2 separate regions of the Homo sapiens genome follow, and region 2 is linked to region 1. A link means that fine-mapping ties the variant in region 1 to the expression of a gene that starts in the linked region. Tissue or cell type: nucleus accumbens. Region 1 holds a variant in brackets; the other region holds the start of a gene. All regions are shown on one strand. Distances are from middle to middle.

What was found. PIP is the estimated chance that this variant, and not a neighbour inherited with it, causes the effect.
Region 2: it holds the start of LINC03000, and the variant in region 1 is the best candidate, but not a certain one, in a credible set for the expression of LINC03000 in nucleus accumbens (GTEx, PIP 0.71).

What each region holds. Positions count from the first base shown.
Region 1 is chr5:164,760,581-164,766,996 of GRCh38, reverse strand. The region is part of intron 3 of LINC03000 (long intergenic non-protein coding RNA 3000); the gene reads right to left. Among named protein-coding and RNA genes, the nearest start is that of LINC02143, 300 kb to the right of the region's middle. The variant C/T (reference allele first, on the strand shown) is at 3,174.
Region 2 is chr5:164,293,998-164,300,413 of GRCh38, reverse strand. LINC03000 (long intergenic non-protein coding RNA 3000) reads right to left here and starts at 3,709. Exons shown (of 5, transcript XR_001742489.2): 1 at 3,218-3,709.

The DNA.
Region 1 (6,416 bases):
TTTTAGCATCTATATTACACAAATAGAAAGTATCCTTTATATTATATTATGTTATATCAGGAAAATGTTCTCTGTCACATAAGTGGAATTGAGTAGATGATTCAAGATGAACATAAGGTTTTTTAAAAAATTATTTGTTTTATGGATCACATTTTATTACATTTTTATTCATTTAGTAGGTACTTTTTCCATACTGTTTGAATGCACAATTCCGTATTAGTTATACATCAAATTATGAAATAATTAAAAGTTTGATGTCCAGGCTCATAAAAGCGACAATGTATCTGGAGAGAAAAAACTATGTATGAAGAATGAATATAACATAAACTAGTCTGAGAAGATTGGCAGTATCAGTACATAAAATTGCTTATACACAAATGACAACTGTAAAATTAAGACAATAAACTACCAATAACATTGTTCATGGAAAGTTTAAAAGACTAAAAACCTTTCAAAAGCTAGAAAATATTGCATTGATTGCCATAAAGAAAAACTTCCTCACTTGGAAAAATAAATGAATATATTTTCATTGCAATTTAATTGATTAGCAACAATAGAAGTTTATTGACTCACAGAAATCTCCAAGAAAGAAGAGAAAGAACTGTTATGTATATTAACATTAATTTTATTTTTTCCTATTCCTTAAGTGTAAGAACTATGATCCCATCAAATATACTTACTCTGTCATGATATTTGAATTCTCAAATTCTCAAATTCTCAAAATAACTCATATTTTGATGCAAATATTTATAATTAGATAAATAGATGAATTAAAATAAGTATTTTATAGATCACCTATCATAGCAAATGGTATATGTCTTTAAGTTATTAAGGATGATTTGTCAATATATACTAAATGAAGTAAAATAAATTTGAATGAATTTTAGAACATCCTTCTAAAATTAATATGTTGGAACCTAATACCCAATGGTATAGTACTAAAGCGGGGGCGGGGGGGTCTTTGGGGAAGTGATGAGGTCATTAGGTTTCTCCCTAATAAATGTAAAAGAGTTTGAAGGGAACATCATCATGCCTTTTTGTGTGTCTGCCTTCCACCATGCGAGAAGGCAGCAACAAGGCACCATCTTGGAAGCAGAGGGAGAGATAAATATAATAAGTGAAGGAAGTATCAGTGACACCTATATAAACATTAACAATAGAATCTGCTAGTTAAGAAAATTGGGATTTCTGAGGGAACACCTGTAAAAAGCTATTTTCATCAGCTAAGAAAAATTATTTTCAAATTATTCCTTATTTACATTCATTTTATATTATTGTTTATGGCAGTAAGAATACATTATTAATGATTGCATACATCAATAGCACAATGGAAACTAGAGGTCAAAATTAGAACCCTAGCTGGGCGCAGTGGCTCACACCTGTAATCCCAGCATTTTGGGAGGCCAAAGCGGGTGGATCACCTGAGGTCGGGAATTTGAGACCAGCCCGATCCACATGGTGAAACCCCGTTTCCAATAAAAATACAAAAGTTGGCCAGGCGTGGTGGCCCATGCCTATAATTCCAGCTATTTGGGAGGCTGAGGCAGGAGAATTGCTTGAACTCAGGAGGCGAAGGTTGCAGTGAGCTAAGATGGCGCCACTGCACTCCAGCCTGGGTGACAGAGTGAGACTTCATCTAAAACAAACAAACAAACAAAAAAATCTAAATGAGACACTAGAGTGATTACTGAATCATCAAAAATAGAATTGGTTTCAGAATAGTTTTTGTATATAGTATGTACTGATTTCTAGAAATCATGTGAAAAATATAGAACATGATATTCATTCACCAAAAAACCTGAATCAATAAGCCCAATTAAATCCAGAAATTTAATTGGGAAAACTTAATTAAAAATTAATTTGAATTTTAGGAGCAATTTCCTTTAACAGGGGATCTGTTAAATAAATTATATGCTATAGCATTCAGCCATTAAAATAAATAATGGTAATAGCAATGAGAAACATTTATTGAGAGCTTACTTTGTGTAACACAGCTTGCTAAGTGTTTTAATTGCATTACCTCGACAATTACTTATCAGTAATATTAATATTAATTATTTTATTAATGATTTTATAATAATATAAAATCTATTAAAGATATTTCAATAAATAAAAATTAATAACAAATGTGATTTTGATTGAAGATTAGATAGCATTAAATAATTATTTTGCAGCAATATGATATGGATCATAAAACATCTTCATTCCATACCAGTGGATTCTGTGCTGTTCTGAATTGTATACAGAATAAATGTACTAAGACAATTTTGTTAATTATTTTAACTTTATATTCTAAAGAAATAATCAGTTGTGTATTCCTTTACTTATAACACAAGAAAATTATTATTTATAATAAACTCATAATAAGCATTAACTACATTATATACAAACTAAAGCTGAAAAGAGTGATTACATGTCTTTCATACTCCTCAGTTTTTCAGCTTCCAAATGTTTAAATCGTTCTAGCATATTTAGGATTCATTAGATCAGATGTTGATTCCTGTTATAAATAGAAACCATTTCAAAGTATAATCGTCATCACAGAGTAAGAATTTTGGAACTTGATTCTATATAGATTTCTGTACAGAATGGTATGACCTCAGCTGGGCTGGAAGAAAGTGTACATTTAAAGCCATGTTATATCTTTCCATATCATCCTTCTTTTATGTCCATGATTACCTCTATGAAATGTCCCTTTTGCCACCTAAGAGTTCCCAACAGTGTTATTCTAATCGGCCTCATCAGCAACGCTGAAGATATATAACATCTTACACTGACTGTAAGTAGCCAAACCACATTTGTAAGTTCAGAGACAACAAATCAATGCATGATAAATAATACTGTTCCACTTCTGACTAAAAAATAGGAAGTTAAAGTATTTCTCATTATTAACAAAAAACTGAAAATGTTCTGCCTTTGAAAATAGATGTTGTTTTTTTTCATGACAGAATGTAAGTTCATCTATAGAAGGCATTGAATACATTCTTAATAAAATGTTTTTTTCCAATAATCTAACAAGGCCCTTTAAAAAATAAATGTAAGAAAAACACTTTATTTATCTGTATTCTCTACAATAAGTATTTAAAGGGTTTAATAAATCTACAGTTATTTAGAGTAGTGAGCACATCAGGAGCTAAAAGAGACTGTTCCTATAACATGGTTCATGACAGATA[C/T]GCATCTGAAACCGCATTTTCAAAAATTAGAATTGAGAAAATTATGACAGTGAAAGAGATCAGACCTAACCAACTCCATCTTGCTTCTAAACTTTAAGCTGTCCTTATTCATTCCTGGGTGTAGGCCAAACTAACCTTGGGAAGGAATTTAGTTTATGGTTTGACTCTGAAACAAAACTGATCATAGCCCTTTCCCGAAAGAAAAAAAAAAAAAAATAGAACTCTTCTTGAATGGGGGCCAATGTGCCTTTGTAGGACTAACAATTTAGCTACAAGATTAGAAATTACAGTTTAGGGGCCATGCAGCCACTGGCTGCAAGAGTCTGAGTCTCTCCAAATTACTCTTGGGAGTAACATCACTGTTGTCATATCTAAGATCACTGCTTGAGATATTTTGCAGACGCTGCATTCCAGTGCACCAGCTGACACCACCAGATGGCTAATCTGGCTCAACAAGTTCTGTGATCCCACCCAGGAACAGAAAACAGCAAGAAAAACTCACTTTGACACTACTAGGATTCCATCTCCAACCAAGTTCCTACCCACTAAATTATCCTTAAAAACTCTGATCCCCAAATGCTCTGGAGACTGATTTGCGTAATGATAAAACTCCAGTCTCCCGCACAGCCAGCTCTGTGTGAATTACTCTCTCTCTATTGCAATCTCCCTGTCTTGATAAATTGGCTCTGTCTAGGCAGTGGGCAAGGTGAACCCATTGGGTGGTTACACATTTGAATAAATATGTTATAAGGTGCTGTGCATTTTCAGTGACACAGGAACAAACACAGAAAAAACTAGCAATTAATTATGATGGTGTCTCTATGTTGGTAGTTGGTAATGAGTAGGGAACAATGGGAAGAGTATAAATGAGAAAAAAAAATATGGATGAAATGTCATTTAAACTAAGTCTTGATAAATGAGTAGAACTGTAGCAAATCTGTTAATCACAAAAGCAATCCATGTTGACTGAACGTCATGGGTGAGGCCTTGAATACTCTATTAATGTATATAATTTAATTAGAGACTAGAGATTGAAGCATGTAAAGGTCAAGAAAGAAAATTAAATACTCAAATATTGGGTCTAGCTAAGGAGAATAATTTTTTTTTTTTTTTTTTTTTTTTTTTTTGAGAAGGAGAGAAGGAGTCTTGCTATTGCTGTCCAGGCTGGAGTGCAGTGGCGTGATCTCGGCTCACTGCAACCTCCACCTCCCTGGTTCAAGTGATTCTCCTGCCTCAGCCTCCCAAGTAGGTAGGATTACAGGTGCACACCACCATGCTGGGCTAATTTTTTACTTTTAGTAAAATGGGGTTTCGCCACCTTGACCAGGCTGGTCTTGAACTCCTGACCTCAGGTGATCTGCCCACCTCGGCCTCCCAAAGTGCTGGGATTACAGGCATGAGCCACCATGCCCAGACACTAAGGACAATCTTGAGTGCCAAAATAAGACATTCATAATTGATTGGATAAATAAAAAAGAGTAATATAGGAATACTGAGCAAGATACCTGGCCAGCAGAAGATGAGAAGTCTACTGGAATTTGCAAGAATGATCTTGAAAAATAATTTCAATAGTCTAATTAAGACAAAATGAAACCTTGAACTGAGGGTAACTTCTTTTTCTGAGACAGAGTCTCACTCTATATCTCTATCGCCCAGTCTAGAGGGCAGTGGCACAATTTCGGCACTGCAACCTCCACATCCTGGGTTCAAGCACTTCTCCTGTCTCAGCCTCCCAAGTAGCTGGGATTACAGGTGCTTGCCACCATTCCCAGCTAATTTTTGTATTTTTAGTAGACATGGGGTTTCGCCATGTTGACCAGGCTGGTCTTGAACTCCTGACCTCAGGTGATCTGCCCACCTCGGCCTCCCAAAGTGCTGGGATTACAGGCATGAGCCACCATGCCCGGCCACTAAGGACAATCTTGAGTGCCAAAATAAGACATTCATAATTGATTGGATAAATAAAAAAGAGTAATATAGGAATACTGAGCAAGATACCTGGCCAGCAGAAGACGAGAAGTCTACTGGAATTTGCAAGAAGGATCTTGAAAGATAATTTCAATAGTCTAATTAAGACAAAATGAAACCTTGAACTGAGGGTAACTTGTTTTGTTTTTCTGAGACAGAGTCTCACTCTATATCTCTATTGCCCAGTCTAGAGGCTTCAACCCCATGTGCTTACTTCCTAGCTCTGCTGTTTCACGTGGCTTGCTAGACAACTATCTCTTAGAACTCTGACTCCTGACTCCCAAATTGATCTTAGTATGTTTTCTAACATCACAGGAGAAAAGGGAGGGAAGGAGAGAGAAACCCAGAAAAGCAGAGGTAGATGAAGTGTGGAAAAGTAGATTACTCAGTAAAGGAAGGGTTATAGAGTATGGTGTGCCAGATATGAAATGAGGCTCAGTGGGCAAAGAAGTATATGATTTGCACCAGGGATTAAAACCCATTGAAAGTGCTACATGGTGTAAGGAGCTTAAATACAGATGCTGCTCAGTCAATGGCTTGTTTTTCATACCCCGTACACGTTGTGGGTTCCCTTCACTGTTTCCTTGGAGTTGTGAAATCCATGACTTTTTTTTTCCAAATAAAGCCTTTTATTTAATCAGGTGTTAATAATATGAGGAGAAGGAAAAGAAAAGTCTTTACTTTTCATTTTCTAATATAATTTTATCCTGAATAAAGTAAATAGATTCAAATAATCTTTGCTTAAAATTAGCTGAGACAACGCTGCACATGAATGATTTTACTGCTGATATTAATGTATTTCATCAAATTCCACCCACCACTGCACATGCATAGCATTCTGATTGTCACATCAATTTTCTGGATTAGAAATGTTTTTGGTGTGCTCTTAAAGAAAAAAGCTGGTTTAAATGTTGATTTTTTTTAACGGAAGCTTAGATGTACTGGAGTATTGACTTAATGGGGAAAAAAGCATCACTTGAAGCAAGACATGCAGTTTGTTCCATTCACCAATGCTCTGCCCACAGCTTAGATGTGACAATCCAATGAGACCCAAAGGCAATAACACTGCCTAAATTCAGGTTAAGGTACATGGGCTAGGAGATAACACCTTCTCCATTATCTTCTTCATAACCTGAATCTCAAAGGTCAGTTAATGATGGCAAACAGATCAAAAAAGAAAAAAAAGCAACAAAAACAAAACCAACAAAACAGTTTTATTGTCAACTTAAAAAATATAAGAGTTCCTGATAAGTAACAAAGAATCTGGATTTTAAA
Region 2 (6,416 bases), 470 kb after region 1:
TTCAGTCCAAAAAATTCTTCCTAAGGGTCAGTGTTGACTGGTGCCTACAGGCAGCATGAGGAAGCTGTTTCTTGCCAGTTCTATGTCACTGAGATCAGCAAGAAGCTTTGACTTCCAGGATCCACACCACAGTCTAAGAAGATATTTAAGTGAAGTAACTGAGCCAGAAAACTAGCTGGAGGTCTCTCATTACTTATTCTTGCTTGTTATTTCAGAATTTTTAGTTGTAGCTATTTCTATTCATGCTTCAATATTAATATCATCATGAAAAAGGACTGGAGATTACAGTCTTTTTTTTACATTGTTGAGACTTTCAAAGGAACTGTTCGTGATTCCAGTGAAAGACTCACGTAATACCCCCAGAAATATAAAAATAAAATTCCTGTTGAAAATCAAGAAGAAACATTTCAGTAGACCAATACCACATCAATGAAAACAAAATCTATTTCAACAAATTATAAATAATTGATGCAGTATGCTTGCAGAGGACAGAGTTTATATCCCCTCAGATAGCAAGGAAATGAAATATTTTGTTTTTAACTTTTGTTACATCATCCAAAGCCTCAAAACTAACTTAACCAAATTCCACCTTAGCTAATACGTTCTGCATCACATGAAAACTCCCCCATGTCAAAAAGAGTATTACAATAACTATATTATCTAATCTGACATTACTAAAGATCCAGATAAGTTTACAACTTCTGATCTAGTTCAAACATAAAGTGACATTGAAAGAAAAGTTTTCCAAACTTTCTCTAGTAGAAAAGTTGAAATTCTAAAGAAATTGAGAGGAGGGACATATTCTTGCCAAAATATATCAGGTAATTGTTGAAAAAATACTTAAAAGTGTTATTAATGAGATGACTACTCCAATAATTTTTAAAAGGTTCTGTCTAAAACAGTTTACAACTCCAAGACCCTGAAAATCATAGTAATAATGAATTTACTCTTATAAGACATTTGTAAAGTTCTAACAGTTGGAAAAACTAGAAAGTTTGGAGAAACAAACATAATACTGAATGTTATAAATCATTAAACAATGCATATTGCTTTAATGTGTATAAATATAAAGTTAGTGCTTTTGTAGTATATCCAAGAAGAAAATCTAGAATATGTCTCTTTTTGGAGAAATGAGATGACTGGTCTGAACGATTTTTAGTAAGTAATTTTAAAACTAATGTTGAAAAGTTTCAAAACAAAGCACATATACTATTGTGTTGAGTATACGCATTCCTTAGGAAGAAAGGAAAACATATAAATCATATGAATAAAGAATATGAATATTAATAAACTTTGAAATAGTTTGTCAGTGACTTTTCTAACTTTATAACTTCAATAAATATTTCATGCAAGATACAATTTCAGTAATTGTATATTCAAATTTATTAACTAAGTAAAAAGAACATTTATTTTTGCACCTCATATGTGGCCACTGGGATTTCATTCATGTTGGATAAATACTATTCTTGATACCTTGTTTCCTTATCAGTCATAAAAGAAAGAGTATAGAGTTTATGTTTACTGAAAATATTCTTCCTTTTACAGACTGTAAAACTTCTCTTTTCTATTTTCATTCCCTTTCATCTTCTGAGTAATTTCGCATATTGACATATATTTCACATCAACATTTTCTTGCTTTTTTTTGGTGTACCCTAGGAGAGACTCTCAAATTAATTTTTTACATTCATGCCAGTTACTAACTTTCAAAAACTCCTAAAAAAAAGTCACTGTAGTAATAATTCATTCCTCCTTTAATTTTCACACCCTCAGTCAAATGAATATTTTACATACATTCCCCAAGGACTTAAACCTTTTGTAAGTGAAATTGGAAATGAAATAAGTCATGCACAAGAACAAGAATCACAAGTCTTCCAATGAATTATGTATTTTTAAATGCAAATGGTTCTATTTTCACAATACTTCACTGTTAAACATGTGCTCTGCTAGGAGCTGCTTTAATCTTATGCTACATATTTTATTGTATGTCAAAGTTAAAGCCATTAGCTATCCAAGGGTCAATCTAATGATGCCCAATTATCAGCAATTAAATAGTTCAGGTGTAGGAATTCAAATAGGAGCAGCTCTTATATAAAATACGGTTAATAGAAAGAACACCTCAGACACACATGGATAGAAAAATATATATATTAGATCGGGTAAATTTAAGCAAAAATGTCAAGGAAAGAAGACTTTATTATTAAATCTTCCTAGCTTTTAGCTTTGATCACAGACAACAATGTAATTTTACTTCCAAGTCATTGGGACCCTGAATGGGACAGCAGAATCAATCCAAGTTACAAGTGACTAATACTATGAGATGCTCTTATCAAAACAGAGCAGAGGAAAATTGTACAAGCCTCTTGATAATATTACTCCTATATCTCTATAGACATTCAACACATTATTAATATGTTTCTGTGATTACAGTTTTCCCAGCTATATCAACAACTCCGAGTGACCTCACCTGAAAGCTAATTTTATTTTGTAAAAACTGACAAGTGAAGATGGAGACCAGTTATAAAAACAAAGGTAATTTTGTAATTTTTATGTAAAGCAAACTCGAGACTCAATGATATCATACAGCATGTGAATTATCACCATCCTTGCATTTTCTCTTAGTCTTACAAATATTTCACATGTTCATGCTACCTATTGATGATATATGTATGTACACAAGATAACACCTTCTCAGTAAAGGCTAGAACAGCACATCTTTCTGACTGAGTAGATTACACCACATGGTAATGATGTGATCAAACTCCACAAGTTATGTGCCTCATCATTAGTTTCCCCAAACTATGAGGTTTAAAAAAAAAAAAAAAGCCACTAAACATATACACAGCACAGCACTGTAGCAAGAGAATAATTTTGGCTTATCCAAATGATAGTGAATAATTCAGTACATTTAGAAAAAAAAAATATATATATATATTATGAAATGCATCCCAGATCCCAGTTTAAGTTCAAGTTCCCAACTGTGAACTCAGAGCTCATGGAAATACAATTATGTAGATTCCTCTTAGCAAAGATTTAGTAGTGGTTCCTTCATTTAACAGCAGTTTTTTCTTAGTGAAATTATTTACTTGAAGAGAGGCTAATATGAAGGGAAAAAGGCAGTTCAACATAGACCAGGCACAATATAAAAAAAGTATTCATAGTTTAAAGTGTGTTAAAGTGTAATGATGTCACAAATAGACAAATCTTAACTGCGTCTTACCTGTAGTAGCAGAGTGTCTTGATACTGTTGAGTGTCGAAAAGATGCAAGTCTCTAAATTAGAAAACAAGGGGCTGTTTGCGCTCCCAGTTTCAGCACAGCCAGTGTTCTATGCGTAAGTAATAAATTGCCTCGTCAAAGTCGTCCCAGCCACGGTGTTCATAGGCAATAGTTAGAATCACTGCCCGAAGTCTTGCTTGATGCTGCTCCCACAGCCTCTGCCTTTGCACAGAGACCTAATGTAGGAGTGAGCCGGAGAACATCCTCTTCGCCCCCCTCTCTCCCCCTCCCTTTTGCGTGGTCTTTCTTCCTCTGTAGCTCACTCTCTCTCACGAATGGAGAGTTATCCTTTGGTTCATTCGGCAGTCAAAGAGGACAGGCTGGCAGGCAACAGTGCAGCTGCCCCCATGCTGAGGCACATGAATGTGTTGTGAATAAAGACAAAGCCCTGAACCAGTGCAGCACGTTACTCCCTGGAAAAGCGCTGCAATGATACTCTGCACTGCAACTCCTCAGGCAGGCAGGCAGGCAGGCAGGCAGGCAGAGCGGTGGACTGAATTTCCCTCGCTTTCCCTCCTAGGAACGTACATTATAAAGTTTGGCTCAGGACCTTGCTTCTCCTCTAAGGGACCACATTTTCTGTGGGTAAAAAATGTTTTATTAAATGTCTGGACACCCTGAACAAAACTATTTTAGATAGTTTTCTACTCTGCTAAACTTGGAGAACCTACCTCATTCCCAAGCTGTCGCCAAAGTAACTGAATTTTCTAACTTTGGAAGATAAAGATCAGGTATGTTAGGCCCCAGAAAAATGTTTTCATGGTAGGGGAAGATGAATTTCTCTAGTCTCAGTATTCCTGAGGGACTGAGTAGGGAGGGTTGGGGAGAGGTGAGCAAACAAACAAAAAGCATCCATATCTCACAGGTGCCAAAAATAGAAACTGAGATAAACTAAAGTGAAACTGATGAACGAGTCTGAAAGAAGGTAAGTGCAAAGAATTGAACAGAGTGAATTAATGGTACTCACTGGTTTCCTATAGCTATCATTCAGTTTTGATAACAAAAAATCATCCTACTTATATACATCATGTTTTGCTGTGGCTTTTGCAAGTATTAATAGACAAATAAACGTAGGCTAATATATACCACATATTTAAGAAAGATTTAGCAGATAATGGCCTACAGGTATTTGCATAAAGAGAGTCAGAAGTTGTTTTCATGCTAACAAAACTACAGGTGGTTACTAAACTATGGATACAGAACTTTGAGATGCACACTCTCAAATACTGGTCCTAATCAATGTATACTGTAACGATGAGACTTTTAAAGCACAATCATATAATGTAGGCAACAGTATTTGGTAAAATAATTAAGTATAAGTTAGGATGAGACTTTTCCATGAATGCCAAAACACCTGAAGTAAATAGTTGCTAGACTAAAATATAACTTTATTTCTATCCCTGATGAAAATGAAGTCTGCAGCTAAGTGTTCCAGGGCTAGATATGAGCTCCATGATATCAGGAACTAGGCTCCTTGTTGCTCCACCATTAGCAACACACTCCAAGATAGTATCTCAAGCTTTAGCCACTAAATTGGTATTCAAACTTCAGGAGCTGAGAAGAATGAGGACAATATGTTCCCTATTTAAGGACATACCTTGGAAGTTGAACATGACATGTTTTTGACTAGAAATTAACCATATGGCCAGAGCTTACTGCAAATGAGACTGGAAGACTGGAAAATAGAGTGTCTATGTGAAATGGCCATGTATATGGCTAAAAACCTGAAGAGCCTTTTACTTAAAAAGAAGAAAACAAGGGAATATGGGGGAAATAATAGTGTCTGCCATAGTAAGATTGATGGATATCGTAAGTGATATCACAGCATCCGTTTCACCTTTATTCCATTGCGAAGTACCGTGTAATTTAGGGAAATGATTTCATGTTGGGCAGCAGACCCTGTTGAGTCTAAGCCTATCATGGTAACAGCATCATACTTGGAAGTAATTGGTTAATAAACCCAGACCTGAACCAATTCGGGCATGATGTTCACTTGCTGATAGTCACTGGCTCAAGAACAGCATAGTTTCTTACACTGGCCCAGTGAAACGGAATGGAGGAAAAATTGTTCAGTGATGAATCAATGAGTTAGGGTCCAGTTTTAAGATGAATATGACAAATTGGAGACAAAGAAAGAAACTAGATATTTGAAGAAATCAATGTAGGTTTGGATTAAACAACTTTAGAGCCAACAGGAACTCAACTTCTAGTTATGCGCACCAATGTGTTACATCACTTTTTAAGTCACTTTGATATGCTTTTCTGTTAGTAACCAAAACATTCTTAATGTACATTAAAAAACACTGTTCTTTAGCATTTAGTATATAATTCCTTGTCCACAGTCCTAATATCACGTGTGAAACTCCACGGTTTGGCGATACGTATTTTTCTAAATTAAGAATAGGAAATATTAAGGGCATATTAAATTTCTACATATTCCAGATTTTCAAACTTTCAATTTATTTATTTAAAATGGTTCTAACAATTTAATTTTCATTGACATTCCATTGGGATTATTAGAAAGCCAATTTGTTGTTGAGCCAGGGACATATCACAAGCTCAACAGATTTAAATAGCTTCTTGTTTTTGTTACACTTATTACCTCTCAGGATCTAACTAGAATAATAAGCTATGCTGTATAGCTTTCTCTCACTTCAGTCTGTGATAATAAGTGTTGTATTTTAATAGCTAACATTTGCCCATGGGTGTGTTTACCCTATGCCCTATCCTCCTTTAAGTTTTTATAATGTATGAACTCATGTGATCTTCACAACAGCTTTATGAGGAGTATATTATTATTATAACCTCAATTCACTTATGAATTGAGAAATGGATTCACACATTGTCTTCGTCTATTTTGTCTTGCTATAAAAGAACATCTGAGACTGGGTAATTTATAAAGAAAGAGGTTTATTTAACTCAAGGTTCTGAAGGCTGAGAAGTTCAAGGGCATGACCCTGGCTTCCAGTGAGGGTTTTTGCACTGCCTCGCAATATGGTGAAGAAGGTCAAAGGGGACATAGACACATGCCAATGGAGGCAAACCTGAGGGACGTCCTGGCTTTCTAAAAACCCAGTCTCTCAGGAACTACTCTATTCCTATGAGAACGAATCCAGCCTCATGAGAGCAAGACTCATTCAC